Regions from separate parts of the Homo sapiens genome. Here region 1 is linked to region 2. The links come from fine-mapping of genetic effects on gene expression. A gene starts in region 2. The other region holds a variant in brackets. All regions are shown on one strand. Distances are from middle to middle. Region 1 has its middle 61 kb from the start of SIMALR. Region 2 holds the start of PERP (p53 apoptosis effector related to PMP22).

Region 1 (2,913 bases), 100 kb after region 2:
AGCACATTTTCCAAAAGTGGCAACAGCATTATAAAGGGAATATACTGACCTGGGAGTTGTGGAGTTGACGATGGAAGGGCGCCAGCAGCAGCAGCCTGGAAGAAAGCTACACAGAGAGGTCAGTGGTTCTCAAAGTTGGCTGCACAGTGGAATCACCTGGGGGAGGTTTTAAATATCCCCATGCTCAGGCCTCACTCCTTAAGCCCAGTCTTTTCAGTGATGTGCAGGAGCTGGCTCATTCTGGTTGCAATTCTCTTTCCGACTCTGTATTCAGTGACATCCTTCTGGTAGCTTAAAATTGGCCACGGTGTGACCGGGCGCGGTGTGACCGGGCGCGGTGTGGTGGCTCACGCCTGTAATCCCAGCACTCTGGGGGGCTGAGGTGGGCAGATCACGAGGTCAGGAGTTCGAGACCAGCCTGGCCAACATGGTGAAACCCTGTCTCTACTAAAAATAAAAAATCAGCCTGGTGTGGTGGCGGGTGCCTGTAATCCCAGCTATTCTGGAGGCTGAGGCAGGAGAATTTCTTGAAACCAGAAGGCAGAGTTTGCAGTGAGCAGAGATTGCACCATTGCACTCCAGCCTGGTGACAGAGCGAGACTCCAGCTCAAAAAAAAAAAAAAAAAATTGGCGACAATGTGATATTTGTATTATAGCAATTGACAAATAAGACAAATCACAAATCAGCCCCCACTCCTACTTCGTCGCCTGAGAGCCAGGTCAACGGCACACTGCTCTTGGTATTCTTAGACACTCCCCAGATGTTTCCAATGGACAGCCAACTTTGAGAGCTCCAGGTCAAGGTCAGCTCCTCTTTTGGCCTGTAGTGTCCCGCCAAATAGTATCTTGGGTTCTTCCTTTTCCCCAGTCCTGCCTTTGGGTTAGCATCATTGCATGGGGTAACTGAGCTTGCCTCTAGGGAGCCCGAGTGCAACGTAGAAGAGAGAGTAGAACTGTGGCTTCATTTGTAGCTGTTATTGAGTTTCTTTGAATACAACTTGATTTTCTTTTAGAGCTAGCCAAATCTCTTTCAGTATACCTTTAGGGTTGGATCTATGGGAGGCATGCTATTTCACTGAAGGAGGTGGGAGAAACTTTCAATAATGTTGTGCAATTAGGAACCCTAATTACCCACTCTTGAGATTGCAGTTTCTCATTCGGAGGCATAATTTTCTATGGTGTAATTTGCTAGGTCTGACTCCCCTGCCTGGATCTGATTTGAGTAAAGTGGGCACCGCCCCATCCTAGGGTAGTCTCACTATGGCTAACACACATCAAACTGACTTTCCTGCATCACAAAATCACACTATACAATGCCCAGCTTCATTCCTCTCTCATAGGCCAGATTAGTCATCTTTTGCCTGGTGAAGCAGACTGAAGCATTAGCTCAAAGTAA[G/A]CTACCGCCACCACCACGTGCTGTGCAAATCTGGCTGGACAAACTTTGACTCAGCAAATTTGCAATGCCCCATGGGACACCTAAAAATCCCAGGGACAGAGAGGACCCTTGAAAAGCCAGAAACTGCTCTTTTTAAAAGTGGTGCTGGGCCCTAGAGAACATTCAAAGTTAGAGGGCAACTTTGGTCTCTGCCACGAGGGGGCAGAAGGAAGCTGGAAGGAGGTGGGAGTACAATTGGGATTTATTTTAGGGAGAGGACAAGGGCAACTGAATGGTCGCAGTTAGGTGTATGCACCGTGGGGCTCCTTGGGAAAGATGGGCTGCCAAGGGCAGCTGATTTCAAATGCTTTAAAACCTGATTTCTATAATAGCTTTGTTGCTCAAACACCATCCTGAATAACTTAACAGGAAATTGTTCTCAAAATGCTTTTCTTATCTGAACACTTTTTTGTGATTAGGAAGAATAGAAAATTATAAAGTTAAGAATTAAGGTGTACTGTGCAGGAAAAAAATTAAAGTAGAAACTTCTAAAGAATGTCTTAGTATCAATAAATGAAATAGATGTAGACATTGACTAGATTATAGAAGTGAGGGAAGTTTATAATACTAGCCAGTGCCTTATAAACAGTATCACACCCCTCTCATCAGCTCCCAGGCAGAGGGTGGAGAACTCACCTCGTAATTCAGGTCTGCTGCAAGATTGGCCCTCAGGGAAAGGGTCCCTTCTCTTCTGTCTTACCTACCATCAAAGGATCAGGAGTTTATGATTGTATTTCTTTATGGTTTCTTGACTATTGTTTTTATTTCTTTTTTTCTAGCTTTTCTGTTCTTCATAATAAAATGAAAATACCACTCAGGTTATTAACTCTTGGTGTTTTTTTTTTTTTTGGCAAATCTTTTTATAGTGTTACTGTCTGCTGAATTTCTTTAAGAGGGTATCTTACGTTGGTTAAATATCGTGAGCTAATTTTCTGTGCAGAGTCAGCTGAATAAAGTATTCATTTCTTTTGCTCCAACCTGGTGGCTAGAGTGGATTGCTGAAATAGACTCTTGGAGAAGGCAATACTACAAAAAAAGGAATATGATCATTTTCTTGCTTTTGTTGGGGTTTGCTTGACAGTATCCCTGGCAGGAAGTGATGTGCCTGAATCTTCTCATGCCTCTGCCTACTGTAGGAAAGCCTTGTTTCTGAGAACACTTCCCCCTCCCCCACCACTCTGTCATAGACAATCATGAAAGACTTAAATTACGTTTGTGAAGTTTCTTTTCATATGGGTGTTTCACCGTCAATATCCTTTTTACCAATCCCTAGGCCCCTCCCTACTCTATCAGTGGCAGGTGTTAAAATCTGTTTACTCTTTCTGAAAACTTTCGAGTGAGCCACACCTGTGTCTTTCAATGGCGCTCACAACGATGAAGTCAACCTAAACAAAACTGTGAATCTGGGAAATTTTGATTTTAACATTTTCAAACTCTGTTTTCTTTTTTCTTTAATGATTTACCTTTCAAACAACTTT
Region 2 (2,913 bases):
AACAAATATCTTCATTACTTTTGAAAACCCTGAGAACATAAATATCACCATTTTCTTCACACAGCTTCCACGATACAAAATTAACTTTTGGCAGAACACCCTCTTGTGTTCTTTGAAAGTGAAAATATTTTCCTGTAATAAAAATATATGACGTGGTTTATGTAAAACTTGAATTATGTAAAATGAAGGCTAGGGAAATTATTTCATGTATTTTCAGATACTTTCTCCATGCTTTTATTCGTCCTCAAGAATTGCCAGAAAATGGCATAAGTCAAAAGAGTATTCTGTTTCTATTGAGAATATCAAATTGGAATACAATTTAAAATATTTTTAAGTAGTTCCCACTTTTATATTAAATTAACAGAAAAAATAGGGGATTCAGAAGAAATCTTTGGAGGTACAGGGTTAAGACATGACCCCCATACGATGTTTCAGTGATTTTCCCAAGGCCACCGAGGTGCCTGACACTGAGAACTCCTTTGTCCTCAGCGGCACACCTGGCTGCCACCCCACCCTTCCTGTCACATCTTAGGAGTCAGAACTGCGACGGGAGCTAGCCCAGGACACCGAAGGGGGGATCCTAAATGCAGGTTGCATGCTGACGTATGATTTTTATTTGGAAAAACCTCAAAATAGTAAATGAAGAGTAGAGAGAGTGCAGTTTAAATAGGTAGAGATTCGTGATAGGAAGTGGACTGCAGCAGAGGCGACATGAAATTATCTGGGGAAGCCAGATGAAGCCTTTCCGAAAGGAAGCGAGCATTTGTTAAATTACATGTTCATTCATCAAATTCACTGAGCTCCCCTTGAGATCCAAACACGGTGCCGGACACTAAGGATACACAGATAAATTCAGCATCGCCTCCGCTTTCCAAAATCTGGCAACCCAGCAGGAAAGAACAGCATGCAAAGAGATAAGAGTACCCGGGGAGCCACGGTCCAAGGTGCAAAGGCGGAGCCTAGGAGGAAGGGATCACCTGTGTCAGCAGGGGTCAGGGACGGGCTTCTGGGTTTGGGTGCACGCGTCCAAAGGAGTGCAGCCTTTATCCACAGGTGCAATTAGAACACCCATCTCACACTGCTGAAAACTCAGATATGGCACTGCTGACCACCGCCCCACGATGCGACATCAGGGGTCAGATATTAGGCTGGCGCTGTGCAGATAAACAAGTGTATATGTTGGTGCGCCAGGAAGACAAAACACGCGCCTGGAGAGGCCAGGAGAGCGGGACTGGAGGGTTGTGGGACGCGCGGGACCCTCGGGCCGCCTTCCGCCGCCGCCCGGTGTCACCAGAACCCAGCCTGTTTACCAGCGGCCCCGCCCGCCCCGGCCCGGCAGGGCAGGTCGGGGCGGGCGCGCTCTGAGTCACCGGAATCTAGGTGGGGCCGCCCGGAGCGGCGTCCTCGGGAGCCGCCTCCCCGCGGCCTCTTCGCTTTTGTGGCGGCGCCCGCGCTCGCAGGCCACTCTCTGCTGTCGCCCGTCCCGCGCGCTCCTCCGACCCGCTCCGCTCCGCTCCGCTCGGCCCCGCGCCGCCCGTCAACATGATCCGCTGCGGCCTGGCCTGCGAGCGCTGCCGCTGGATCCTGCCCCTGCTCCTACTCAGCGCCATCGCCTTCGACATCATCGCGCTGGCCGGCCGCGGCTGGTTGCAGTCTAGCGACCACGGCCAGACGTCCTCGCTGTGGTGGAAATGCTCCCAAGAGGGCGGCGGCAGCGGGTCCTACGAGGAGGGCTGTCAGAGCCTCATGGAGTACGGTGAGTGCCCGCCGCCGCCGCCGTCGCCGCCTCCAGGAAGCCCTCGGGGCCGCGGCCTGCAAAAGCCGCCGCGCGTGATGGGCCCTCACAGGGTCGGGGGAGCCAGTGCTTTTCAGAATGCCTGTTTAGGACGAGCTCGGGCTCATGCATCCGACCTGAACCAAATGCAGCAGCAGTAGCTTTGGGTGGCCAACACCAAGCTCAGAAACAGAAAAAAAAAAAAGGCCGTAGTTCAAACTGTATAGTTTTTTTCCTGGGTTTTGTCGGTTACGTACGAAAGATTATTTCAAGCATTGCAAGTTTAGATGAGTAAATATAATGAACAAAGTTTCTTGGAGACCTGAAATTTCTTCCCATTTCTCTTCCTTCTCGTTTCTTCTTATGATTAAAATATAAATATTGAAATAACGTGCCTTCCCTAATATCAGTGGATTCGTTCAACTTGATATAGCTGAAAAAACTTTCTCATTTAAAAAAGCCCTTTCAGGCAGTTTTAGCAGTTAACGTTTTCAATAGATATTTCAGTCTACTTTACCGGTCAGGCTAGTTCTTGTTAGCTCTTGTTCTAGGGCGTGTCCTTTGGTTTAAGCATGGCATTGTTGTTTAGAAAACTTAATTATTTTAATCCGATTTGAAATCTAAAAAGCAAACACATTCCCTACACTCGCGACGTGAAGCAGAGTTGACAAATTTAATGTACCTAGCAGGTGAAGTACTGTATGCCATTTTCCCAGCATGGAGGAAGCTCCCTGCTTGCCTTGCTGAAAGTCAGGACTGGAGCATAGTTCTTGTCTGAGAAGGCATTTTCTTTCACAGTGGGAAGCCCCCTCTCCTTTCCTGGGGGTGGATGGGAATCACAGCTGGGGTCTACTGTGATTAGCAATGTGTGTGGGGGTGGAGATGGGGTCTGTGAGAGCCTAATAAAACCTTAAAGCCAAATGGGCTTTACCTACCGGGTTTAATAGTTTTAAACACAGACAGCAAGCTACCCTGCCTGTTTTCATTTCTTACTATTACCATTGACTTGATTTTTTTCTTTGAAGTGGCCCAGGGCTTCCAACCCAATCCTGTTTATTTGTGTTTCCGGGGGACTATATCAGCAACTTGGTGCCCTTTCTTTTGTGTAATCCTTTGGACGTCACTTCCCCACAAAAGGA

Evidence for each region. PIP is the estimated chance that this variant, and not a neighbour inherited with it, causes the effect.
Region 1: its variant is fine-mapped to the expression of PERP in thyroid (GTEx, PIP above 0.99).

The regions. Positions count from the first base shown.
Region 1 is chr6:138,005,797-138,008,709 of GRCh38, reverse strand. No RefSeq gene overlaps it. Among named protein-coding and RNA genes, the nearest start is that of SIMALR, 61 kb to the right of the region's middle. The variant G/A (reference allele first, on the strand shown) is at 1,397.
Region 2 is chr6:138,105,970-138,108,882 of GRCh38, reverse strand. It overlaps PERP (p53 apoptosis effector related to PMP22), which reads left to right and starts at 1,464. Exons shown (of 3, transcript NM_022121.5): 1 at 1,464-1,756. The coding sequence starts at 1,543. RefSeq lists a silencer at 1,286-1,335.